2 separate regions of the Homo sapiens genome follow, and region 2 is linked to region 1. Evidence: fine-mapped QTL for protein levels in blood plasma. Region 1 holds a variant in brackets. A gene starts in the other region. All regions are shown on their reverse strands.

Region 1 (11,128 bases):
TCTCTCTTTTTTAAAGTTGTTAACTAGTAATTACATATCTCAAACTGTAGAAGTACACAGAAAAGAAAAAGATAGCAAATCCTTTTACTAAGCTCTGATTAAATGAGTATTTAGAATATCTAACCAGAATATTCAAAATAAAATTCTACAGGAATGGTATAAATTAGTAAAGAATAATTCAGATAATAATTGAAAATAGTTAATAATTTATTTAATTTAGATTTCAGACACTTTTAATTCTAATAGCATCTGCCCTGGCATTAGACCAACCTGAGTTGAAATTTTGCCCTCTGTATTTACTAGGTATGACCTTAAGCAAGTTTTCATTTTTATTGTTTTAATAAACAGTTTTGTGCCTTGGCTTTCTTATCAGTAAACAGGGATAATGACATTATTTAACTTCTAGAGTTGCTCTAAGAACTAAATGAAATAATACATGTAGCAGTGCTTAGCACAGTGCCTGCCTGGTACTTTCTAAGCATCTAGTAAAAATTATCTATGTATCTTTTCAACCATCTCTTCAACATCCATCCATCCTTCCATCCATCCATCCATCCATCCATCCATCCATCCATCCATCCATCCATCATCTGCCCATTGGTTCATTCATTTATCCATCTTTTTTTATGTTTCTGACAACATAAATTGATTATTTTGGGAGGCTTTCTTTGCCAGGGAATATGCAGAACTTTTAAAATATGAGGTGAATTTATTGTCCAGAGTGTGTGCAAAGAGGAGACACCCCCAGAAACCAGTTTATTTTAAGTCCTTTTTCATGGCTACTTTTTTCTGGTTGAAGATAACACCCTAAATTTATTTCTGCCTATTAATTCAATAATATTTAAATAATTGGGAAGTATTTACTGAGTGTTTCTTTTCACAAAACATTGTTCTAGGTATTGTGGGAATGCAGAGAAAGCTAGGATTTTGTTCTCACCCTTGAGAAGTTTGTAATGCGGTTGGGGTTACTTAGAAAATATAATGATATTATACATTTTTAAAAGATTATGTGAGGTAATATCCATTAAGTGTTGAATGAGTGATATAAAAAGTAATTTCTCACAGATCTTATTAGAGGTGTTTAGAAGAGGGGTAGATCGTAGTTAACTGGAATAGTCTCAGTTGGTTTCCTAACACTAAGAAAGGAAAGTGAGGAAAATAGGGAGAGACAGGCAGAGCAAAGGCTAGGAGGCAACAATAAGTGAAGTTTGACTGGTGAAGATAAATGTATAAAGATTGGTTGTATCTGGATGGAGGGCCTCAAGTGCCAGGGTCAGGAGTTTGGACTTTATTTTGTCATCAGGGGAGAGCCACTGATGTTTTTTGATCAGGAGAGTGGCTTGATGAAGGGAGTAGCAGTTAAGATTGATTTGGTGGAGGAGATACTAAAATAGAGAAAGTAGTTTAGGGTCTGTTGTAAGAGTTTAGGTATGAGGTGTGAAAAAGCCCTGTGCTAAGGTGATTATAAGTATGGTAAGAGAGATGAGCATAAGAAACATTAAAGAATAGCTGATGGAGCTTCATGACTGGCTGGCATTGAGAAGCAAGGATAAAAATGAGGAGGTGGATAGAGTGTTCATGTTTTGAACCTTGATGATTCTGACAGTGGTACTCTTCTGGGTGTGGATGAATGAGGGGAGGTATTGAGGAAAATAGTGATGAATCTAGTTTTAAGGTGTTTAATATGAAATTGCAGAGCATATCTTGGTATAAATACTTAACAGTCATTTGAGGACTGTTGGATTTCTGGGAGATGAGAGAGTTTAGTGTTGGGGATATGGATATAATAATCTTATGACTTAATGAGATGCTTGATAAAAACAGTATAGAGAAATAATAATGTTTAGATTGGCAGTATTAACATGGAGTGGTATTTTCTGTGATTATCTATTCACTTTAATTTAAAACAATAAGCTATTTGCCTATCTCTCCCTCTCTGCCTTTTCCTCCCTCATTCCCATAGTATTGATTGTCTACGATGTGTTGTGCACTGTGCTGGGCACTGGGGATCCAGCAATGAACAAGACAGATGATCCCTGTCCTCATGAAATATACAGAATTAACTTGTTTTTTAATTAAACAAAATATTTTAATGAGTTCTCCTTTTACCCATTTACCATGAGCTTATGCTATGTAAGCATTTATCTCCCAGGGTCTGAAAGATGTTCTCTGACAAGAAGTTTCCTTTTCTTCCTCTCGTTGATACTTTTTATTTTAGTATATTGTAATAAATACTCTGTAGGAGTATAATTTCAGGAATTGATTAAATTACTCATCATCGAAGTTTAGGAAATACTGATTGCAATCCCCTTTGCCTGGGAGGTTTTTATTGTGCTGAGCTTATAAGAAGTGTCTCTTGGAAAAAATTGTATTATATTATTTGAAAGTTCTAAGAACAAGGAAAAAGATGTTTTTCTAAAACCGTCTTATTTCTTACACCCAGACACTTCTCTTAATGATGTTAAGTTTATCTCAAATCAAAATAAAACGTGCAGCTAGAGACTGGACTTCCCCTTTCTCCTGTCGCTTGCTATCCTTGTTTTCCTTCTGATTTAGCCACCGATGTTCAACCAATGTCTTCATCTCATTCTTTCCTCTACTCCTTCGTAATAAAATAGAGGAATGGAGAAAGAGGAACACAATGCAAGACTGAGGAACACCAGTTGAGACTGATACCAGATGAAAGCATTATTCTAATGTCTGGATTTGTATTCTAAGATTCAAGCTCAGGAGAGCCTATGCTCTTGATGAGCCTCAATTCATTTCACTGTCACCCTGGTGTAGTCAGTGCCTCCCCCTTTTTTGCTAAACTGGTCTATTTTTGTGTTAAATGATCATAAATGATGTTATTTAGAACAGAAGTATCTGTTCTAAAATTGGAATGGAATATTAGGCATATCAGGCATTAGCTATAGGAAATATTTCAAAAATGAAATGGTTAAAATGGGAATATCAGGCATTAGCTGTAGGAAATATTGGTAAAATGGCATATCAGGCATATGGTAAAAATGGAATGTCAGGCATATCAGGCATTAGCTGTAGGAAATATTTTCTTTCTTGCTTGCTTTCCCTTCCTTCCCTTCCTTCCTTCCTTCCTTCCTTCCTTCCTTCCTTCCTTCCTTCTTCCTTCCTTCCTTCCTTCCTTCCTTCCTTCCTTCCTTCCTCCCTCCCTCCCTCTCTTTCTTCTGTTTTCTTTCCTCTTCTTATTTATTTATTTATTTTTTTGACAGAGCCTTGCTCTGTCACCCAGGCTAGAGTGCAATGGCACGCTCTTGGCTCACTGCAACCTCCACCTCCCAGGTTCAAGCAATTCTCCTGCCTCAACTTCCTGCAGAGCTGGGATTACAGGCGCGCACCGCCATGGGTGGCTAATTTTCATATTTTTAGTAGAGACAGGTTTCACCTTGTTGGCCAGGCTGGTCTCAAACTCCTGACCTCAAGTGATCCACCTGCCTTAGCTTCCCAAAGTGCTGGGATTACAGGCATGAGCCACCTCAGCAGGCCTAGCTGTAGGACATATTTTCTGATAAAAATGACATTATTGATGGAAAAAGCCCCTATATTTAGAGTATTTGGAGAATGATTAGAGTTTTTGCTGTATTAGAAGGAATGATATAAATTTGAATGTCTTAAATCTTGAGTTAGTTATGAAATAAAATCACTTTTCTAAGAGAGCTTTTAAAATGCAGTTTGTTTGGAGCATTATCTATATTAATTATATTCATTTTAATTTGTATCTTAGGAATCTTTGGAGTGCGGGAGAACCATGTCAAATTTTCAGTCCTTTAATATTAATTTAGCTTCAGGTTACTGAGATCACTTTGGTAGTGAGCCAATATGGTCACCAAATTTGGATGAGAATTCTAGATGCTGAGTGTCTGAAAAACAGTTGTGGATATGTGTCCTATGCTTGGTTATTTTTCTAAACTTGTGTAGAGATATTAAATCACTTTCATGAGATGAATTTTCAGCATCAAAAATATAAGCTACTTTAGAAGACGAAAACGAAGCGTAACTCTCTGTTAAAGAAAAATTAAGACAAAAGCTTTTGAAGTTGAATCCTGCCTGTCCTTTTCAACCTTCAGGAAGGTTGCTAGGCTAGAAAGACATCTCTAAAAACAAAGTTTTTATAATGGAAAATGCGCTGACATACCCTTTAATGATATAGGTTCAAATGGCAGTGATATAATTTGTAGGTCTTTGTGCTTGGAAATGTCTGGAAAGTTGTAGTGCTCTTATTAATATTTGTAGTCACTTTTTATGAATTAGTATTTCTTGTTGTTTTTCATTTTTATTTAATTTAAGATGAATAAATCTTATTATTAAATAACATGAAGATTGCATCATAGCCTTCAGGATTAAAATGCACTCCTTTTTTGGGGAAGAAGATAGATGTGTTTCCTCTGTTGAAAAATTTAGATTTGATATTTTGTTTTCTTCATGGTAATTATGTTTGCACTTTGCTGATCACTAGTTGTGCATTATTACAATGGAAGGTGACAATTTGATTGTCTTCAATTGGAGAAACAAGTAATTTTATATTCACTAAGCTGTCAGGTAACACTAACTCACAGTACTAAGAGCTCCTGGCAATGCAGCTTGGCACCTATATTTAACTGCTTTGATGCTTGTGTAACCTCTGCTGAATCAGAAGTACTTTGCCTGCTGGAAATGATTTTCAGGCTTGTACAATGAGGTTTTCATTAAGTAGACAAACTGAAAATGAACTGCAAAGCCATGGTTGTTTTTCTCCTCCCCTTTTACCTTCTCCCCTTTTCCCCTCCTCTTCCCCTCCCTTTCTACTCTCACTCCCTTCCTCCCTCCCTCTTCTTTCTCTTCTTCTTGTCTGTCTTTGAATAGGAACCTGAAACTTATACCTTATTTCATCACATGAAAGAGTGGACTTGGTAGATTGCCTTATTTAGCTAAAGGAGGACCTCAGAGATTAGTTTCTTTATATAAATTTGTTCAGTGTTTGTGTGAATTTTCATATTTTGAAACAATCTAAAGTATCAATATTCATTTTTCTCTTTTTTTCTGGAAATATTGAAGAGGGAAATTCGAGTTAAGGATGGAAAAGTATACAGTGACAATTTCCTACACTTTGTCTCTGAGAAGTTATTGTTCTGGTTTATGATTTTTATTAATATAATTGGATAAGATATCCTGTACTTGGGCTTCCATATTAATGGGCCAGTTTCACGCTGACAGAGAGATGTCTGTTTATTCACTTAAAAAATTGTAGTTCTCATTTTATATGAAGAGGAAATTCAAAGTGAACTTACATAAATAAATTCATTCTGCTATTATTTTAGACAGCTTTCTTTCACTCCAGCCACACAGAGGTCTTTCGTTGAGCTATAAAGTCATTGTGCTAGATTAAAATCCTCTAAGTTAGTGTATATTTATAGTAGCCATTGTTAGGTTTTACTCTTATTGTTAAGTCACTGAATTTATTTATAAAATCTGGGCCTGGCTTTCCAAAGCAAAAATTCCAAAAAGTTATTGGTAGATAAACTGTGAGAAGACCATATTATTTATATCAAGCAAAAAGTATAGATAGAGGTTACATGAAGTCAAGTTGTTTTGATCCCAGGAAGAAACCAGATACTCAGGGACACTTAATAATTATAGGTTTTCCATAGGCAGTCAGTCAGCAGGCCAGTCATTAGGCTGGCTGCCTGTCTCTTCCAGCAGATACTAACCAATTAGACAGAGGTAGTTACGTGATGTAACATTATCAGGAGAAACAATTCATGAGTCAAAGCATTCCAAGACATATGAGCTCTAGTCCAAAGAACAGTCTTAAGCTACATAAAGTGACAGCAATATTGTCAGCTAAATATAAACTCTAGAAACACAAACTTTGATGACTTAAGAAGAATCTGTT[C/T]CAGGTAGTTCTTGTTTTGTAAGAAGCTCAGAGGGCCTTTGGAGACAATTTTGGTGCTTTGCTGTGAAAAATTGGACCCTTAGAAAAGTCAGAATCCATTAATTTAAGCACTTTCTTAGACACACTTCAAGGGCTTCAAATGTATTTCATTTACCTCATCTCCATTGATTTGACAGCTAATTCTAATCAGTGAGTTTTCTTCTAATAGTTACTGTCCTCATGTGTTACCATATCTGTTCTGAAAGTGCTGCTACAAACTCTAGAAGATAGGTTTATAACTTTCCAAGGTAATTCTGAAAACAGTTACCTTCTTTTCACCTGAATTTTCTTAATTACTTAATGGAAGAAATAGAAAAATCTGGCAGAAGCAGAGGGAAGTTTGGAGGTGGATTGGGGGAGAGGAGGTGGTGGTGTTGTATAAAGTAATACAAATAATTAGTAAGCACCTTCCGACTTTACTGGAATGAATTGAGGAATGTTTTAAAAGGAATGTCTTCATTTTAATGTCTAGAATTAGGATGTACCATGCCATCCTCCCTTCCCCAAGATCCTTGAATGTGGAAATTAGAGATAGAAGAAGAGGGTTTTAAAATCATTCTTTGCCCTAGGCTGGGTGGACTGGTGTCCTTTGTAGAGGTTCCTGGGTATTGTGCATTTTGGCAACTAAACATATCTGTTACTCATGTTCCTTAAGATGAGAGGCACTGTGATATATTTTTGGAAAATTAGTTGTTTATTTCTCAATATCAGCTCAAGTACAGCATTATATTAACAGTGAATTATCTGATGAAATGAGTCTACCTTGGTAGCCTGGGGCTGAGCTGCAAAAATAAATGGGAATGTTGGCCTGAAGTTTTAATTTTTTTGAATAAGTAGAACAACTCTTAAAATGTTGCTTTATGTTAAAAACAGGACTTTTTTTGAATAAATGTAACACACCTGGAAAGTGAATGCCATTTGATAATAATCATAAAAATAATGGAAATATTTTCAAAAATTCAGTTAAATATATTGCTATGATGAATTCAGTGGCTCTTTTTGATAATTATGTAAGCTTCAAATGACAGTTTTGAAAGATGGATACTTTTCAAGCTATAATAAAAAAATGTAATTTTGAGTGATTATGCCTTATGAGAAAGTTTAAAAGTTTGAAGTTGTTTAAAAATAATCCTGACTTTAAACACATAAAAATAACTGTTTTTAAAGAATAATGTCAAATCAGAAAAGTTCTAGAAAATATGATATTCTGAGATAGAAGACTTAATGTGCACATATCCAGCATTCTCATCATTTTATAAAGTCTTGGGCCAACTAATTTTGATTTATTGTTGCAGAACAGAAAATAAATTTACTGTCTGAGTAAGTTTGTAGTAGGCCAAACATTCAGACTTTGTACTGGTGTTTTGGAGTAAAATAATTATGACCTTTCTAGAGGTGTTCGTACTGACTTCCTAGAGAACATTCTCAGTAACTGGAGGCTTTATCTCCAGCAATCTCATTTCCAAAAGTCCTAAGCCCGAAGTTCTTCCCAATGGCCTGGCATCCTGGGAGTTCACTTGATTGTTGGGCAGAGACATTTTAAACTCAGGGAACATATGATGGGAATTTAGTTTTATGTGTCCCAAAGATATATAATTCTCTTTGAAGGTTTTACTTGATAATAGTTATGCCCCAGAAAACCATCTTGTTTAACCAATGTGATAAGTTGACAATGTAGTTTTTCTCTCTGATTATAATGTACTCTGTGTAGTCAATACACTGGTACCATGTGAGTGTAATTTCCTCTTTTATTTTATCTCCAATGCACTGTATTATAAATAAACAGTTAAAAAAAACACCAAACAAATCTGTTGCATCTCCTTTTAAGATTGTACCACTGTAGACACTTGTTCTAGTAAAGTAGAATTGGGCGCATTTGATTGCATTTAAATTTTTCATGCTTCAGCAGTTTGGCTGGGAGCACAGTAAAGAAAAATCCCATGAGCGAGGATAGTTTAGAATAATAGAACTTGATTTTGTGTATTATAGCGGCAACATTTGCGCTGCTTTAGTTAGGGTTGTGTCAGCACTTCCATTATAAACCCCTGTTTTCAGGGGGTATAACTAGGGAGATTTTTTTTTAATACAAATTAAAAAAACAATTCATTTGAATGATTTTTAAGTTATAATAGTGCAAAAATAAAACAAAGTAAAGTCACATCGAAATTGACCATTTCCACAAGGATTTTGATTTTCTTTTACTTATTAGTCATATAAGGCAGCAGCTAAAGTAAGGTGCTGTTTTAATATGTTGGGGATGAAAATTTTTGCAATGGAAAATTACTGACTGAGCATTAAAATAAATGTAAGCATTCCACATGACATTTTAAAACACTGAAACATGGGTATATTTGATTTATGAGTTTCTAAAGGAGAGTAACTATGGTACAGTGGTTATAGTAAAGGCATTACCAAAAGTCAAGTGCCATTGAAGCTTCTAGAATACAGTTTGGTTGGTTGAGTAAAATGTTTTAAAGGGGAAAGCTAAAGAAATGAATGAGATGTCATCAGGATTATTTAATAAAGTATTTATGCAAAAAATCAGTGAATCAGATCTAATAATCAGCAAATCTAAAGTTTATTTAATAAACTGCATTAAAAACAATTTGTGCACATTTTATAACAAAACTCAAAACTGCCACCCAAAACAAAAATCAACAACAAGACCAAATGTAAAAAAAAGATGTAAACAAAAAAACCCCAACAATTCTACCAAAAGGAAATGCTCAAGGAAATACCTTGCTAAAAACAAAACCCATCTTTTTCACCACTAGCAATGCATTTGAGAACTATAATAAAGTAAAAACAAGAAATTATATGATTTGGAAAAGTATTTTTGGAACAAAAAATGTTAATTCCTTTGCTAAGGAAAGGGATTTCAAAACTGAGTGTGTTTTTCTTGATTGTTAACCGTTGTTGTCCTACCTCCCCTGTCTCCTTTTCCTCTAACGATAGTGTGAACTGAGAATGAACACTCAGATTTAATATTGCTTTTTTTGGCAGCTTGTGTTTTATTTGCAACCTTGATACACATATGTATTTGTAGATGCAAAATAAAAGACAAATTGTGAGATGTTATAAATAGGTAGCATTCCTGAATGGCCACTGGAGGAATCACCAGAAGACTGTTGATGAAGTAGAGGTGAAGCCTTTCCTCACTAATTGTATTCAGCGTGTAATTTCTAAACTTCCCTCTGAATTTTGATTTTCAATTAACACTCCCCATTTGAAGATAATTTTCTATTTAATGTAATTGCAGGAAATAATTTATTGGCTGATTAAGACTGAGGACCCAGCCTTCCTTAAGAAAACATTCTAACAAACCATCCTTTAAACTCAACTCATAGATTTAGTCTATTTTTACAGCTGCAGAGTTGTATTTAATTAGGATTGTGCACTATTGTTCACTGGTGCAGTTTATAGTTGAAATTATTCTTAAGAGACTGTTTTCATTTTGAGTTTTGTCATGATTAATTTAAACTGAAGCAACAATCATAGACATTGCTATTGGAAGGAGCCAATTCACTTTATAATAAGAGGATGTTTGTTGAGGGAAGTAAAGTCACTCTGATTTTTGGATCATGACTTTCAATTGTATTGAACTATTTTAAAAAGCAGAAGTACATTCATTCTTTTGTTTTTAATGTGAATGATTATTGATATTGTCAGTATCTGAAATAGGAAATCACCCTTGTTTGTGGCAAGCTCTTGATAAACTTGCAGAACAATTATAATTTGCCTGGTTTTACTAATAGTAGTTATGGGGCCGGTAAAGTAAGCCATACAGCAATTCTCTTATACTAAGAAGCATCCATTGGCTACCATTTTTCATAATTGTGTATATGTTTGTCCATTTGTTATTATTGATATAAATTGATCAAGAATATATCTGATTTATTGATATAGCACTCTTTAGAACATTTAATTCATTTCTTCTCAAAGAAATTATAGGCATTCTTTTGCATTCCCTTTCCCCCATTTTATTTTCTAGTATCAAATTTAATAGATACAATTTTTGTTACTTGTAGAATGATTATTATAAATTGGTATCAGCATTTTAATATGTTTCAAAGCACTTCAAAAGCCTGTAATACTTTTATTTTGAACTGCGCATAATTAGATTAGCTGATCTTATATTAATTTTTTTCACTGTAGGATACTAAATCTGAGCCCCCTCATTAATTGTGAGAAATTTAGCATTAGCTGTTAAATCCTATGTGAAACATGGGCTGCTACATAAAAACTACTGTTTAAATTGGAATTAACTTAATTATTTTTCTTTGCACTTGATATTTCCTTCACTGCAATATTCATGAAAGCGTGTGACAGATTTGTAAATTTAACTGTTAATCTCAGATTTCTAGACCCTTTAATCAGTATTTATTTGTCTGTAGAAACAGTACTAGCAAGTTAATGATTTGCTAATTTGAAAAATGCTCATGTGGTTTCCTATGTTAACTGATTTGTGCATTTTTTAAAAAATGGTATGAAATCAATTAATGTTAAATAGCAATTAAGGTGGAGATTTTATTCCTTTCATTACACAGCAGTTTTAGAGCTAAAGATGTAATAAACTAAAAACAATGTAAAGTTTTAGAAAAGTGCTCAATTCCCTCTTCTGTTAAGTTATACACTTTCAGTGGTTTTATTTTCTAACCATTTTGCCAAGAAATTCATCTTAATAAAATGATATTCTAAACATTTTGAAATTCTATTTAATAATCATGGTTTTCTGATTTTATATGAGAGCACAGAATGGAGACGTTGTCATGTAGCGTGTAGTCAATGTTTATTTGTGGGCATATAAATGAATGTTCAATATTGTATTTGGAGGTTTTAAATATTATGCACAGTAGGCATTTTACTATTTTCATGGTAAATGCTTCGAATCTTGTATATACTTCCTAATATAAAATAGAGGTATAGCTATTTCAGATACTTAATTCAAATGCTACAAAATTGCCCTAAAACTAATCTAACAGTATCAGCCACTCAATCAATATGTCACTTAAAAGTTAAGTTACAACAATTGACTCATTTCAAAGGTCTTTTAAAAAGCTTTAGATGGCACTAAGTAGTGTTAGGCCCAGCCCTAATAATGCAAAGTGTAAACAAAGAAGTCAGGATCAGATTTGTTTAGGACTTTGATTATGAATTATTTACTCTCCTGATTATATTTTCCTACATATCCCCCTTCTT
Region 2 (17,404 bases), not on the chromosome of region 1:
ATTGGTATGTAGATCTGCTGTCATCCCAATTACATGCCAGACCAGCATTTTTATAGAAAAATAATAGATAGAAAAAGGATCATAGAAAAGCTGATTTTAACATTTATATGAAAAGGCAAAGGACCTAAAATAGTCAAAACAATCTTGAGAAAGAGCAATGTTGGAGAACTCACACTACCTCACCTCAAGACTTATTACAAAGCTTTGGTAATCAAGACAATGTAGTATTGATAAGAAGACAGACAAACAGGTCAATGAGCTAGAATTGAGAGGCCAGAAATAGATCCATGCTTATAAAGCAAATTGTTTATGATAAAGGAACCAAAGCAATTTAAAAGCAAATAAAATACCTTTTAAAAATTGTACTGGAACAATTGGCTATTAAAAAATTTTTTCTTTAACTTAGACTCCTATTTGCACTTACACTCTATTTCACACCACACACAAGAACTAATTTTAAATGGCGGAAAGATCTGTGGATAGGAGTTTGAGAATCTTGAAAGATAGTCTATAGCAATAAGCATCTGCCCAAGATAGTCTATAGGAATAAGCATCTGCCTTCAGGCATTAGACCCTCACTTATCCTTAACTGGATCAGGATAACTTAGCTTAGGCTAGGACCTGGCCTTCAGCCCTTCCCCACTACTTATTAAAACATTTAAAGAGAAATCTAAATTAAAAATCCAAAATAATAATGCAATTTAAAACTACCTCAAAAAATCCAAAAATCTTTAAGATATACCATTTGAAACAAAAGTGTTAAAAGAGATAGAACAAGAATTTTATGTAAACATGATAAATATACTTAAAGAGATGTAACAAGCTATTAGTAATATGAAGAAGAATAAAAAATCATTAAAAATGAAAATATATGAGGTATAATAGCTGAAAAACTACACCAAAGGTGGGATAAAGAAAGGATAGAAACAGCTAAAGAATAAATTTGTGAATTAGAAAATCAGACAAAGAGGCAATCTCTCGGCAATCAGAAGAATAAAGAGATAGAAGATATACAAGTAAGCATATTCCTCTCTGTTCCCATTATGTAGTATCAACCCTCTCCCCTCAAGAAAAGCAGGTTACTTACCCCAACATTACTATAACTCCCTTCTGATCCACTGGCATGAGGAGTCCAAGATGGCCAGGTGGTAGACCCAGCTTCAAATTCAGTAGAATCCTCACTTTGCTGGTGGAGACATAGCCCTTACTGGGAACGATGTTCTCTAACCTAACAGAGCCTAAGGTTAGAAGACAGGAAGAACAAATTTCACAAATAGGTCACTGGGGATGATCATGTAGGGATCACTTCTATTTCCTTGGTTACCAGACCTGTTTTCTAACCATTAAGGATAGAGCATCATGTATCAGTCCTTATTTCAATGCATATACCCCAAAATTGAGGATCATGCTCTAACCTTCAGAATGTGTTCTCGGAGAGGGCCACTTAGCTGAGCCTTTAAGCCCATTGCATCATTCAGCTAGGCCAGCTGCTTCTGGGTGATGGGATATATGGTGGAACCAGTGAATCCTGTAATCATTGTTGTATGTCCTTTGCAGCAAAATTGGTCCCCTATTTGAGGAAATGTTGTGAGATCCCATATTGATAGATCAGGCATGCTGAAGTGTTGAATCATACTTGGTGTAGATGTAACCTCTGGTAAGGACAAATTGCTGCTGTTTTCCTCAATTGAGGGGTTAGCATCAGTCTCTGAGGCTGACATTCAGCACTGGCTAGATAAGCCCTTTGTGAACTGAATCCCATTCTGTTAGGTGTTTGCATACTTCTATTCCTGCCACCGTTGAATGCCAAATTGCACTGGTACTGCAATAACCAGGAAGAAATGTTGGCTGACATCCACAGGTTTACTCATCCTGTCCACCTGATGGTTGAGATCCCCTTCTGCAAAAGAGGCTTGCTGGGCATCACCACAAGACAGACAGATCTGCATGCTTGGTGCCCACCAACTATAGGGCCCACATATCTCTTTCCCCTGCCTCCTTGTCCTCACTCTTCCCATTCTGGTCCTTCCAGGCCCTGAACAAACTAGCCAAATCATTCGCCACTACCTATTGCTACCTAAGGTCACTTTTCCTTCCATACAAAGTGGACAATCAAGTGTGCTGCTCGAAGCTCTGCCCAAAGCTCTATATAGAGATTTTATACAAGTGATAAAGAAGATTATGGGAGGTAGCCTAAAACCCCTCCCAAGACAGTCCTGTGACCACCACTGTTCCTCTCTAAACTAATACTATTTCTTCAAAGCATTCATTAGTAGTGGAATCTCCTAAAAGAAAAAAGCCCATAGCAGCTTAGAGGGAAATGAAAATAGGGTGAACTGGGAAGGCAGAATGTTATTGAGCATTCAGACATTGGAGGGATAACTCTTCCCCAAACAAAAATGAGACCTTCAAAAAGCATCAATTTAGTGTTTGATTTAATACAATTTTCTTCCATTTGTAATGATTTCATGTGCATTTGTGTCATCTCTTTAAGCAGTGTTTCCATCCCTTTGGAGTCAGGAAGTATATCTTACTCCTCCCTGTATCCACCTTTCTCAGTTCCCATCACAGGGCTAGGATCACAGCAGCTACTCACCTTAGTATTAAATAGTTTGGAATTGACTGATCCTCACTTAGGCAGTCCAGGGCTCTCTCTCTCAATTCTGTCATGATCATGCTGCCTTGACTATTGATGCCCATGCTTCCTCCTATAAACCACCCTTCAAGGTTTTCAAATCCCTACTCATGAGTCTGTCTACCTTTTATTTCAATACTGAGCAGCCATCCTCAACCAAGGTCATTTTAATACCAAGGTCCATGTCCATCACAGGGGTGCCCATCTCTGGATGGCAACTCCAGTCTTGTTTGCTTGTCTCTCTCACACCATTTCTGTTTACTGACTGTTGAAGGAAGAGGCTGCGAGAGCTCCCTATCCCCACATGGCCTGATAATAGAAATGAGTTATTCCACTGGCTGTCAAAATACTAAATCTTCCCTTCATGGATCCAAAACTGGGCTTAGACACTCCTCTACTGTGCTCTCCACTGTTCAGATTCTACCATTGAGGACCTCCTGGAGAATCTGGAATCCCCAACTCTGACATGAAGTCCACAGACTACTTGTCAGTAACCCCCAGGGCATGGTTTCTATGGACCTAAGTTTGTGTCAGTCCGAAGATCAACTTTGTCCCCAGAATGTCTCTCTCGTGTTCCCCTCTGGGTCTTACTGAGATTAATGAGCAGTCCAGTTCTGCTATTTACTAGTTGAGTGATCTTCAGTGAGTTAATCTCTCTGGGATTTTCTTTCCTGAGCTGGCATAGGAAAAGACTCATTTGTATTTCACAGGGTTATGATAAGAACTAAGTGACATAAGGAGTATGTGTTGCTTTGCACAGTGTCTGCTATTTGGTTGCCACTAATTAATAAGCATTGTTATTATAATTCTAGTAATATTGTTATGTACTCCTTTCATACTATAATACCTTCACCACCCATACAGACCATTTTTCTGGCTTTAAAATTGTTTCTCTGCCACCCATCTCTTTTCTACTCTTCCTACTCCTACATACAGTTGTTTAGTGGAGTTGATTTGTTATCATTTTTTTCAATGAAATTATACTACACACTCTGGCAAGTTTTGAAATGCCCCTCCAACATTTTCCCTTGTCTTGCACACCATCCCCTTCACTATTCACTTTGTGATTAACAAAATATTACAAAAAAAGTATAGTATATGACAATGATGTCACCTCTCAAAATGACCAGAAAGTATACATTCATTCACACTAACATGTCTATTTTTTCTGACTCACAGGGCTGTGTTTTAATGACAGATTCATATCCCAAAATTGGGGTAACACCAAAAACACAACCTAATAAGCTATGCCACACAGTGCATTAGGAACAGGCTAATAGATGTTGCCAAGAAGAAACAAGAAGAGAAATGCTCACTGCCTCTCAATATGCAGTAAACAAAAAGCCAAAGTGCTTTACATTTTTCAGTAGAAAGGTCATAAGAATGGGTTAGCCTTGGTATGGTATGACAACTGGTAGTTCCTGCCAAAGGAGATAGTCAAAGAAGCAACGTTAATTTTAATATCAATTACAGATTGATATTAAATAAATGTCAAGGTGCTAAACTACTGTGCCACCTCGCACCACTTGTGATTCAGGAATTATGTTCGTGGCTCTGGTCATGACATGCCCCTCCTCAAGAACCTTCAACTGCCCCCCACTGCCCACAGGACTGACCCCAAATTCCTAAACCAGTTTTTCTAGGCCCTTCACAAGCACACCTGGGCCCTCTGACCAGGTGCATGTTCTTACAGTCTTCTCTGTTTCACGTGCTTCGTTGAAATCCCACCATCTTCCAAGGCTCTGCTTCAATACCAGACTCTCCATTCCTACCTCTGTGGTGGAATACCCATGTCTTCTTCAGTCAGAGCTAATTTCTCTGTCCCATGCACTTCTATATCACTTTTGTTTGTTCCTCTGTTGTAGAACTTACTCTATTTTTCCCTGATTTCAAATGTTTAGATATGCAGCTTTGGTTAAGCCACCAATTCTCACTGAGCATAGTGTGCGGCCATGAGAAATGAACTCAGTAATGCTGTTGACCATCTTCAAAATGGATTTCAAAAACCAGCAGCACAATATGAGTGTAAAATAGAATCATGACTCAATGATTACCCTGTGAATAAATGAACATTTCAGTGATTCCACAGATGATCATTCTCAGTTACATCACTTGGTTGAAACAGGCCAATGAGGCCTTAAAATGCCAGTTAACCCTGAATTGTATAATTCAAATCGATAAATTTATATTAAATGAATCACATTTCATTTTATGTTAAGCAAATCACGAATAAACCTGTTTTGTTTTTTTAAAAAATAACAGGTTAAAATCCCAGCTACTCGGGAGGCTGAGGCAGGAGAATCGCTTGAACCTGGGAGGCAGAGGTTGCAGTGAGCTGAGATCTCGCTACTGCAGTCCAGCCTGGGCAACAGAGGGAGACTCCATCTCAAAAATAAAATAAAATAAAATAACGGGTTAAATCAGCCTGTTATTTTAAAACAGCCCCATCACCATGACTAGAACAGCTAACTCTGGCCAAAGAACCCCAACATGTAGTATGTCCTAGCAAGAATAGATGAGTAGATCAGCATAAATCCATTCACACTGAATGGATTTTCCTACAAAATAGGGTTCTCATTAGAAAGCAGAGAAGTATATAGGTCAGGAGATTGCCCAAGCAAGGTGTGGGAGGATGGAGTCCTTTGTGGAATCAGACAACAGGTGTGGAGGAGTAAGGATGAAAGTGACTAGAAGAATAGCAAAGCTCTCAAGGATTTTATACATTACATGCATTTTCTAGATGAAAGGCTATTCAAAATTTTACAAAGGTCAAATCAGAGCACCTTCATAAGCCAGGTTCCTCTGTTGCCTATGACTTCGGACTTCCCTACAGTGATCTGCTGCTTAATGATGGGCAAAGAACAGGACTAGCTTTGAGCAAATTATGAGGGATGCCAGCTTAGAGTCTGCTCCCCTTCCTTTTTCTGTTTTCACTTTCCTCTAGAGCTGCCCCCTGTATTTACTAACCTTTGAAAGACAGAACCCACCTGCATTCTTCTAAGGGCTTTTCTCCCCAACCAATTATGCAAATTGGAGCGAATCAGACAACCTTAGTCACACACGTGTATATAAATAGCTAATAGAGGTGGTGCATATGACATCTCTCCTGAGAGAAAAGCCTTAAGGCTAAGAGATTAATTTCCAATTATGAAATTGCAACCATCCAGGAATTGGGCAGGGAGAACTCTCCCATGACATCCCCCGCCCCTTCCCTGCCAAGAACACCTTAAAGGCATAAAGCACTTGCTGCCTGCTTGGCCTGTTCATAAAGATTCACACTTACCAAAGAATTCCTTGGTGCAACCTCAAGCTACAAAATTGTTGCAAAGAATATTTACATTTACATTTTAAGTGCAAATACCTAGAGTGGAAAAATGTATTTTTGATCTGGATAGAGGACAATATTTTTAGGTCCTCCCCCACTGCTAGTAAATTTACAGAATTACAATACCCATAAGGAGCCAATAAGTTTTTAAATAGTGATGTTAAACTAAGTATGTTCAGGCATCTAAGGGGTGTTATGTGCTTTACAAAGAACTGAGAATGTGGTTTTAACAAAATGTTTTCACCCCATATACCACAAACACATGTGCAGTTTCGTATTTGGCTCCTGAGAATATGTCTTACAAAATAGGCCTCAAACCAACACCAAAAGATGACTATCTCTCCTGCTATATGACTGCATCCTGCACTGAGTTAGTTATTCAACAAATGACATTCAGTTATGGCCTAGAAAATATTTGTAGTAGAGACGGGGTTTTACCATGTTGGCCAGGCTGGTCTCGAACTCCTGACTTTGTGATTCGCAAAATATAAAAATTTAGCCTGGTGTGGTGGCGCGTGTCCGTAATCCCAGCTACTCGGGAGGTTGAGGCAGGAGAATTGCTTGAATCTGGGAGGCAGAGGTTGCAGTGAGCCAAGATCACACCACGGCACTCCAGCCTGGGCGACAGAGCAAGACTCTATCCCAAAAAAAAAAAAAAAGAAAAGAAAAAGAAAAAGAAAGAAAGAAAGAAAAGAAAAAGAAAATAATTGTTTAGCCTTGTTTTGGTTTTACTTCATAGTTTCCTGACTTCATTCATGAGGGAAAAGGAATGACACCCAGCAGAGCAGGCCCCGTGGAGCTCCTGCACTTGCAAGCACTCACACCCTGCAGGAAGAACTGGTATACACCCGTACACACAGGAAAGGCCACTGAGAGTCAAACACCACCAGCACCAATTTGTGAACTTTGGTGAGGTGTGAGGTATTATCGCAGGGTAGGGTTTATTTATTGTTGCTGCTGTTTACTGAGGTATAATTTCCACACAGTAAAATTAAACATTTTTAGGCACATAGTTCTCTGAATATTGACAAACTTAGTGATGTGACTACAAAAGCAATCAAAATTCTATCACATAAAAAAATTCTTTGTGCCCCTTTCTAGCCAATCCCCTCCCCTCACCCCTAGTCCTTGGCAAATGCTGATTTGGTTTCTATTTCCATTGTTGCCCTTTCTAGAATATCATATAAACAGAATCACACAGTGTATGGCCATTTGTGTCTGGCTTCGTTCACCTAGAAAAACGCTTTTGAGATTCATCCATGTTGTTGCATGCATGAGTTCTGTATTCCTTCTTACTGCCAAACAGTACTGCATTTACGGACACACTACAATTTGTTTATTCACTAGTTGAGGGACATTTGGATGGTTTCTAGCTTTACATGATTATGAATAAAGCTGCTGTAAAAAGTTGTTGACCGGTTTTTCAGTGGACGTCTGTCTTCATTTCTCTTAGATAAATACTCAGGAGTGAGATTCCTGGGTTGTATGTCACGTGTATATTTAACTTTATAAGAAACTTCAAAACTGACTTCCATAGTGGAAGTCCATTCCCACCAGCAGTGTATGATAGTCCAGCAATATATTATAGCTCTGAATCCTTGTCAGTATCAGATGTTGTCAGTTACCTTGATTTGAGCCATTTTATTAGTAATCCATCAACTTTTGATCTAGGCTGGGCCATAAAATTAAACTTTCTGCTAGCTATATATACTGGGTTGAATAAGTGTCCTTCCGAAATACACATTCACCCGGAACCTCAGAATGTGACCTTATTTGGAAGTAGGATCTTTGCATATGTAATTAAATTTAGATGAAGCCATACTGGGCTGAAGAGGGCCTTAATCCCAATGACTGGTGTTCTTATAAGAAGGCCACGTGACACAGGGACACACAGAGTAGAGCATCCTGTGACAGGAGAGGCAGAGATTGGAGCTAGGCTGCAGCAAGCCAAGGAATACCAGAATCCCCAGCAGCTGTTAGGGCCAAGCAAGGATTCTTCTCAGAGTCTCGGAGAGAGCATGGCCCTGAATACATCTTGATTTCAGACTTCTGACCTCCAGAACTATGTGAGAATACATTTCTGTTTGTCGTAAGTCACCCAGTTTGTGATAATTTGTTAAGGCAGTCCTAGAACTAAAACACTATGAATACAATTTACAGAATACAACAATACAAATAGGTTTATATTTGACTTATATAAAGCTTTCTGAGGATAAAAGCATAATAATTGCTTCTACAAAATTCATTCTAATTAGTTCAAGCATATCACTAGAAGCCTAATTTATTAATATGCATAAAAATTCTTGGGCTAAGTTTTTGACTATTCTATAATTCAACATTTCACTCATTGGACTGAACTTCTGCTAATGAGTCAAGATTAGTGAAGACCACTGTTTATCATGAATTAAGAGCAGTGCAGAAGCAGAATCCCAGTGGTTCCTATCTATGGCCATTGAATATGTGAGACCCACATTTTGCAGAATGTTCTACAAAGGATTAAAAGATGAACTTTCTTTTAGTTTAGTCATTTGTGGTATAATGTACTGGAATGCACCTTTAAAATTTTTTAATTGTAAAATTATGTGTTTATTTTTCCTATCATGAAGTCTAGTTCTGAAAAACAAGACTTCTGTGGTAGAGCCAGTTCTGGTTGTTTCTTAAAGAACAGATCCCTTTTCAGTTTTAGCACAAAGCTCTTCCAGCCCCTGACGAAGAAAATTGTCCCTCTCTCAACCTGTATTAGACTTCCTTGGGGAGGCAGAGGGATCTCCCTCCCCACCTGACCCCAAAACCTTTGAAAGAAAGAAGTTGGTTATTCTGTTACACTATTATTCAATTAGAATTCCACTAATTTAATAACAGAGAATAAAAGAATAGTTACAGTCAATAGCAGGTTGTGGTTTCTGCTGCTAAAACTTTCTGAAAACCTATTGCAAATAGACAGATACTGAGGCAACAATAAGACAGGAGGGCAGGTGCAGATGTGGGAGCAGGAATCTCATGTTTTACATTCATTCCTCTATACTATGTAAACCAGACTTTCTCCCCATGAACAACATAAGGTAATAGCAAGCCTATCAGGTGAACATTAGATATCATTATATGGACTTCTGGGAGGAATCTGGCAGTCTTATGAGCACTTTTCTGTGTTGTGCACTGTGGTTACCAGCTGTACCATGCCTATTTCACAGGAATAGCTGGTGAATATAATCATAACTTCCATAAAATTTGCAGAGCAAAGCAGGTTGTCATCCAAACAGAGTCCAACAATGTTCAGTGATCCGAACAAAAGTCAGGCCCATTTTCACCACTCCTGCTCTCTGATAAGCGTACATTGTCCTTTGAGTGTTTTGGGAGAGCACAGAGTTGACCTATTCTGGGGGACAAGGACTTACAAGATTGGACCACTCTGTTCCAAGTTTGGGCAATTTCAAAGGACAGGGCTTTGGGGAATTGGAACAACTTGTTCAACTTCATTGTGTTTGGGTCTCACTAAACATAGAAACCAGCCTCCCTCTTAATCCCCATCCCACGTGTTGAAAACCATAAACTCAAGTTACCACGAATAAAAGGCCATGGAAGAGTGCCCAGATGCCCTTCGGGATGGGATGACCCAGTTAGGAGGTAACAATGTTTGGGGTTGAGATTGTCCCTCTATTAGAAGCAGACAGAGAAAAAGCTATGACCAAAATGTTTGCATGGCTTAATTAAATATCAACAGATATCTCTATTCACTTTAAAGCTCCAGCACACCAGACAAGGGATCCGAGCTCCGGGCAGGAGCCAAAACCACCATTGCAGATATGCTCCCAGTTTTACCAGCTAATTAGATGTTAAACTTACATTGTAACAATCAACCTGATATTATTGCCTACTGCAGATAGAACTAGAATTCTAATTAGGTCAGAATTCTAGCTGGGATTGTGTAGATGGACAAATTCTTTCAGGGTAGTTTGATATCACTGCTATAATTTATGGTAAAGACAGTTGGGATCATACTGGCAAACTAAGTACCTGCCTACACTCCCTCAGGCCTAAAAATGCCATTGATTATCCCAAAAAAACTGAGAAAATAATCCACTACAGTACGGAAAAAGACAAAATAGGGGCACTAACACACAAGAAGCACTGAAGGCTTTCTGAAAGAGTAATCAGGCCTGATGTTTGTAGTTTTAATGTTTACTTTGCAAACAAAGGTAGAAACAGAGTCTGGAGCTCGGATGCCACCACCAGAGAGGGTGGCTGTTCAGCCTCTCTCCTGTGCAAATTAACCTAATTCTGAACCTGTCTTGGTTTAATTCGCACAATTTCAGGTGCCATGCTAGGTACACCACAAATATACCTCAGGGACCTCAATTGCAAAAACCTGGACTGCAAACGTTGGGGCTGCAGAGTTGACTAGGTTAATAAATTCTTTCTGAGGTAAAGCAGATAACACCCACTAATAAAAAGAATGAAACTTCATCGTCCCATTGGCATCCTCGGGTGTGCAGGTGTTCCTCAGAGCAAAGCCCATGGTGTGCCCCATCGCCAATTCGTGACAAGGCAGGGGGCGGGGGGCGGGGGAAGGAAAAAAGCCTGGGATAAGAAATCAGAGAATACAAGTCGCTTTTAAACAAAAAACAGTGACTGTTAGAGTACACCCACCATTGGGGTAACACGCAATAATCTCTCAGCATCACTGACTCCAGCACAGCTGGTCCCCTGGAAAAGGCACGTTGCCGGAAGGTTTTGTGTGTGACCAAGCAATTGGCCATCCCACGCCTTCGCCCTACCAGATGGGTCCCTGCCCCCGGGAGTCCCCTCCCCCTCCACCCTCCAAACCCAGGCAGCGCCCGCCCCTGCCCCCGCTGATTGACAGGCCGTGCAGCTACTCCTGGGAGCCTGGCTTTCGGGGGCAACCCAGGCAGAAGTGACTATCTCTGCAGCAGCCAATAGAAGCCAGGAGGCGGGGCGGGGAAGCGGCGCGGTCAGGTGCTCCGCTCCAGAGTTGAGCGCAGGTGAGCTCCTGCGCGTTCCGGGGGCGTTCCTCCAGTCACCCTCCCGCCGTTACCCGCGGCGCGCCCGAGGGAGTCTCCTCCAGACCCTCCCTCCCGTTGCTCCAAACTAATACGGACTGAACGGATCGCTGCGAGGGTGAGTCCAGGGGCGTGGGTGGCTTCCCTCCCGGGAACCCACACTGCTCCTCTGGGTCCCTAAAGCAACGTCCCCTCCTTGCCACTGCACATCTAAGAAGCCCAGGCCTCGGTGGGCGGGATGACTGGGAATTGGGAACATAACCTACGCCGCGACCATTCTGGGTGGCTAGGATGGAATCCTGGTGGAGAAGATGGACACCCCCGCCCTTGACGTCTACCCGAGCTACACAAACCTACTCCTTCTGCACTTTCCCTCTTCCGTTTAATCGGTGCCCCGTCCTTCCTGCTCTCCAAGTCTGTTTGTGGAGGAAGGGTTGGAGGGGAGAAAGAACTGGAAAGTACTCAATGAAATGTGGAGCCAGATCCAGGGATTCCACTGTTTTGTGCAGCATTTTGTGCACGAAAAAAAAAAAAATTCTGATTGTTTTCATTCCCCACCCCCCACCTCTGTTTATTGCTCTGTGTCATGGATGTGATGTTGAGTCTTCTTGCCAAACATTCCTAAGCTTTAGACAACACTTAATCTTTGCTTACTTTTGTTGGTCCCAAGAAAGCAGTTTTCTCCTGCTTACACATGTGCCGAATTAATTTGCTAAGATAGATGAAAATGAGGTGTTCCATGTAGTTTATTTCCTCTGCTTTTAGCCTTAAATTACATTTGGTTGATACTAGCCTTCCTTGTTTTAAAAAGGTGGGAGAGAAAATTAGGGGGAGAAAGGACAGAGAGAGCAACTACCATCCATAGCCAGATAGGTGAGTAAATATATTTGCAGTAACCTATTTGCTATTCCTTGCTGCAACTGTGTTTAATGTTCCTTCCAGAATCAGAGAGAGTATTGCCATCCAAGAAATCGTTTTTAAATATGACATTTGAGCTATCATCTTGAGACCAATACCTAAAACAATTTCAGTTTAAGAAATGTCTAGGTATGGTGAAAACACAGTTTAAAACCAGCAAAACAGAATTTATTGCCCTCAGCGAATACCCACAATGTACATATACCTTGTATTTCTGAAAGCAAAGCAAGCATGCCAAGTAGTTTTTATTTACCTGTACCTATAATACAGCAAGGTGAAACAGGATATATTTTTGAAGTTTAAAAATGTCTTCAGGCCGGCTGCGGTGGCTCATGCCTGTAATCCCAGCACTTTGGGGAGCCGAGAAGGGTGAATCACCTGAGGTCAGCAGTTTTGAGACCAGGCTGGCCAACATGGCGAAACCCTGTCTCTACTGAAAATACAAAAATTAGCTGGGTGTGGTGGCGGGCGCCTGTAGTCCCAGCTACTTGGGAGACTGAGGCAGGAGAATTGCTTGAACACGGAAGGCGGAAGTTGCAGTAAGCTGAGATCGTGCCACCGCACACCAGCTTGGGCAACAGAGTGAGACTCCCTCTCAAAAAAAAAAAAAAAAGAAGTCTTCAGCTTAGGAAGATATCAAAAGGCAGTTTCAAGAGATTTATTTGTACAAGTGTGGTTTGATCTAAGTTTTGGTGGGTTTATAAATACCTTCATGCAGGAATGGGTAGAAAAATGAGAGAACAAAAGATCCCTGCTGGATGTGCACGCCTGATGAAAACTGACAAAATTTACATATCTATTGTTTATCCATACAGCGTCTTATTAGCTTTCTTCAATAGAATGAAAGTATTTTAGAAATATACACAGATTAGGGGAAAAGACCAGCAACCTTGATTCACAGAGCTTTAAACCAGGGAAGTGCTTTTACTACACCTATCAATGATAAGATTAAATTTTGACAAATTTTAACATTAGGAAAGTCAACAACAAATTTCAGAATTATATTTCTGTTAATATTTAGTTTAGAATCTAATTATTTAGTTCAACGAATGCTGTGATTTGATTATTAATAAATGAATGCAGATTACTTTTCAATAAATATATCTGGATGTCACAAATGTTATTTCACTTCAAGAAACCAAATTCATCTATTTTCCTCTCTCTTTAGTAATACATCTTTTGTCTGTGATTAACCAAACATAGGGGTTGAAAATAGAAGTGTGCATATACATATATATATAATATATATGTATATGCACCATTATTCGATTTGCTAATGATACTTCATTGTTGCTAGGTTGCCATAGTTGCTCTAGCCATAATGTTAAGGATGTTCACAGGTATTTGACTATAAAAAAGTTTCTGACCAGAAGTCAAAAGTCTGGATCAACCTGAAAATGTTTCTAAAAGTTTTATGTAAATGATGTCATATTTTAAAATGCTGTTGAAGAGCTCACTTAAATAATTCCTTTGAGGGATATTTAGATAAATTCTCAGAAGTGAAAAAGTTGTTTAAATGCAGCTAAACTTATTAGCTTTATTATTCATTTAGCCCCAGGTCTCTTATCTAATACGGAGTTCTGTGACATAATTCTTCCAGGCTGTGATTTATGAATATAACTAGGATTGCTAAGCACTGTTACTCTGAGTTTGGGGTAAAGTATACAAAACAAAATTATTGCCTTTAATTTCTATATGTTTATTCTACAGATTATCTTACACTGAACTGATCAAGTACTTTGAAAATGACTTCGAAATTTCTCTTGGTGTCCTTCATACTTGCTGCACTGAGTCTTTCAACCACCTTTTCTCTCCAACCAGACCAGCAAAAGGTTCTACTAGTTTCTTTTGATGGATTCCGTTGGGATTACTTATATAAAGTTCCAACGCCCCATTTTCATTATATTATGAAATATGGTGTTCACGTGAAGCAAGTTACTAATGTTTTTATTACAAAAACCTACCCTAACCATTATACTTTGGTAACTGGCCTCTTTGCAGAGAATCATGGGATTGTTGCAAATGATATGTTTGATCCTATTCGGAACAAATCTTTCTCCTTGGATCACATGAATATTTATGATTCCAAGTTTTGGGAAGAAGCGACACCAATATGGATCACAAACCAGAGGGCAGGACATACTAGTGGTGCAGCCATGTGGCCCGGAACAGATGTAAAAATACATAAGCGCTTTCCTACTCATTACATGCCTTACAATGAGTCAGTTTCATTTGAAGATAGAGTTGCCAAAATTATTGAATGGTTTACGTCAAAAGAGCCCATAAATCTTGGTCTTCTCTATTGGGAAGACCCTGATGACATGGGCCACCATTTGGGACCTGACAGTCCGCTCATGGGGCCTGTCATTTCAGATATTGACAAGAAGTTAGGATATCTCATACAAATGCTGAAAAAGGCAAAGTTGTGGAACACTCTGAACCTAATCATCACAAGTGATCATGGAATGACGCAGTGCTCTGAGGAAAGGTTAATAGAACTTGACCAGTACCTGGATAAAGACCACTATACCCTGATTGATCAATCTCCAGTAGCAGCCATCTTGCCAAAAGAAGGTAAGGCTGACTGAATGAATGGTGAGCTGAGACTAGATGTGCATTTGCCCAGTGTGATCAAATGAACAGGGATTTCTGTTGCTGCGCCTTTAAAGTAGACTTTGCCTGTGTCATGGTAATATTCTGGGATTTAATCCTCAGACTCTGAAAAGACAAAATCTCTTTTTTCAAAGCCTAATTTTTTTTTCCTTTTTCCTAGAATACTGAAATTGATGTGCTCTATGTATGTATGGCAGTAGGTTTTAACCATTTTGGATCCATAGAATATTATGAAAGCTATAGCCTCCCTTCTCAGAAAAATTGAGATGGAAAGATACATACAAAACTTGAATGCATGTACAGTTATTTCATAGAAGCCCCAAAGCCTTTTATAGGTTCCTAATTTGGACCTGCTTAACAAGGAAGCTGTGGAAGATAAGAAGGAGAAAGAGCTTTGGTCAATCTGAGGTTTATTTTCCTTATAAATGTGGAAAGTAATAACAATACCTTAAACTTTTTACAAACCTCTCCTGGAATCCTTATACCAAACCTGTCACCTCAGTATTGTCTCCATTTTAAAGAGAAGTAAATGACAGGTAAGTGACCTCAAAAGGTTTAACATCCTGAGGTCACAAAATAAGTGACAACATGACTCAGACATGCTCTTTGACATATTTTATCACTTTGCAGGGTTGGTCTTAGGTATCAAATGAGAGAACAGATTTTGAAAAGCTATAATATTTCACAAATGAGAATTCCATCCCTCAGAGGGGAATTAGAATCATATGAAACAGCGAATGTTAAAATATGTGTGTGTTTTACACACACAGTTTTCAGCAAACAGCACTTTTTTTCTGGTTTAAGAAAATTAGCTAGGAGTGGTTGCTCACGCCTATAATCTCAGCACTTTGGGAGGCTGAGGCAGCAGGGTCACTTGAGGCCAGGAGTTTGAGGCCAGCCTGGGCAACATAGCAAGACTCTGTTGCTAAAAAAAAAAAAAAAAAAAATAGCCTGGTGTGGTGACACATGCCTGTGTCCCAGGCTGAGGTGGAAGGGTTGCTTGAGCCCAGGAGTTCTAGGTTACAGTGAGCTATGATCATATCACTGCACTCCTCCTTGGGCGACAGGGAGACACAGTCGAAAGAAAAAAAAGAAAGAAAAAGAGAGACTGAGGGGGAAAGAGAGAGAGAGAGGGAGGGAAGAGAAGGGGGTGAAAGAGAGAGAGAGGAGGGAGGGAAGGAGGAAGGGAAGAGGGAAGGGAAGAGGAAATGGAAGGGGAGAAAATTACATTAACCCTTCGATTTCCTTTATAAAATTGGAATGATGTCCTCTTGTTGCGGTGCAGAAGATAAGGATGCAACCTCAGCAATGGATTTGAAAAACAGGAGGATGAAAGACAGTGCCTGGGTAACCGCATTTGTAGTTATAGGGAGTACTTTGGCAACACCTCCAGTGTTTTCAGATGTTTCCATTTTACAAACTGCTTTCCACCTCCAGCCTCTTTTCCCAGCCCTCACCCACCCCTCACCATGTTTTCTTGTCTGGAGATTCTTCGTGTCTGCACTCACAACTACCAGAACCTAGCCATTTTTATTTGGGTATTGCAGTACCCTAGACATTTTACATAGTGTCACTAATTAATATGTGTGTGTATTGAAGTCTTTAGAGGTTTCTGGTTCTATAAAATGCCCTTCCTTAATTCTATAAGGTGAACTTACAACAGAAGATTATTTCCTAGTTTCCCCTCCCAAAATTGTTTTCCCCAAGGGGAAAAAGAATTTTTTCTTATGTTCAGCTCTCTGGTTTTTCACCTCCGTAGCAAGTCTGTTGCCCATGGCTGATGGTAGCTATGAGTATTTTGTTCTGAGTGCCTCTCCTCCCTTCTCTTTAGGTAAATTTGATGAAGTCTATGAAGCACTAACTCACGCTCATCCTAATCTTACTGTTTACAAAAAAGAAGACGTTCCAGAAAGGTGGCATTACAAATACAACAGTCGAATTCAACCAATCATAGCAGTGGCTGATGAAGGGTGGCACATTTTACAGAATAAGTCAGATGACTTTCTGTGTGAGTATGTTACAGTATTTCTTTCCATTCTGCATTACTTTTTGCTAAAATACAACAGTTTAAATACATAATACAGCAGTTTATTGATTGATATTTTTACTGTCTGTTACTTGAATATTAAGGAACTACAATGTTTTCGTACTTATCTAAAAATGCTTTTTTTAGATATTGGTCCTTGATATGTAAAAGATATATACAAAATGTCCCTTTAGGTAGAATTGGGTTTCTATCATGTTTATTGATTAAAAGAAAAGCAGATGCCTGAACAATGGCATTTGTAGTGTGCTCGTGACTCATAGTGGCAGATGTATACAGATACATGGTTTCTGGTTCTTAAAACGGTTTTTGGCCAGGTGCGGTGGCTCTCGCCTGTAATCCCAGCACTTTGGGAGGCTGAGGCGGGTGGATCACGAGGTCAGGAGATCGAGACCATCCTGGCTAACAGGGTGAAACCCCGTCTCTACTAAAAAAATACAAAAAATTAGCCTGGCATGGTGGTGGGCGCCTGTAGTCCCAGCTACTCGGGAGGCTGAGGCAGGAGAATGGCGTGAACCTGGGAGGCGGAGCTTGCAGTGAGCCGAGATCGTGCCACTGCACTCCAGCCTGGGCGACAGAGCAAGACTCTGTCTCAAAAAAAAAAAAAGCAAAAAAAAAAAAATAAACAGTTTTTACATACAGATAATGATCCATAAACCAATGTTCATATTTTTATGTCTTGTGCAGGTAGCTCTTATGTTAGAGGGCTTGCTCAACAAAGGACTGCTATCTTTGGCAAGATTTGTATTTTAAAGTTAATATAAATTCAAAGGGCCCTCTAGAAATGGTTTGCTGAACTACAGTTACACAATAGATTGGTCACCTCTATTTTTGATAGAAAACCTTAATAA

Alleles and levels. Positions count from the first base shown, and alleles are read on the strand shown. Strength reflects both the effect of a copy and how common the allele is.
In carriers of allele T in region 1, the plasma level of the protein whose gene starts at base 10,924 in region 2 tends to be higher than with C alone (weak association).

Evidence for each region. PIP is the posterior inclusion probability: the model's chance that the variant is causal. The UK Biobank Pharma Proteomics Project read protein levels with antibody pairs (Olink). The fine-mapping took linkage between variants from a reference panel, not from the people measured, so its PIPs are less certain.
Region 2: it holds the start of ENPP5, and the variant in region 1 is fine-mapped to the plasma level of the ENPP5 protein (UK Biobank, PIP 0.99).

Annotation. Positions count from the first base shown.
Region 1 is chr11:16,341,711-16,352,838 of GRCh38, reverse strand. The region is part of intron 1 of SOX6 (SRY-box transcription factor 6); the gene reads left to right. Among named protein-coding and RNA genes, the nearest start is that of SOX6, 9.3 kb to the left of the region's middle. The variant C/T (reference allele first, on the strand shown) is at 5,891.
Region 2 is chr6:46,164,500-46,181,903 of GRCh38, reverse strand. It overlaps ENPP5 (ectonucleotide pyrophosphatase/phosphodiesterase family member 5), which reads left to right and starts at 10,924. Exons shown (of 5, transcript NM_001290072.2): 1 at 10,924-11,096; 2 at 11,790-11,851; 3 at 13,607-14,470; 4 at 16,341-16,517. The coding sequence starts at 13,642. RefSeq lists a silencer at 10,693-10,752.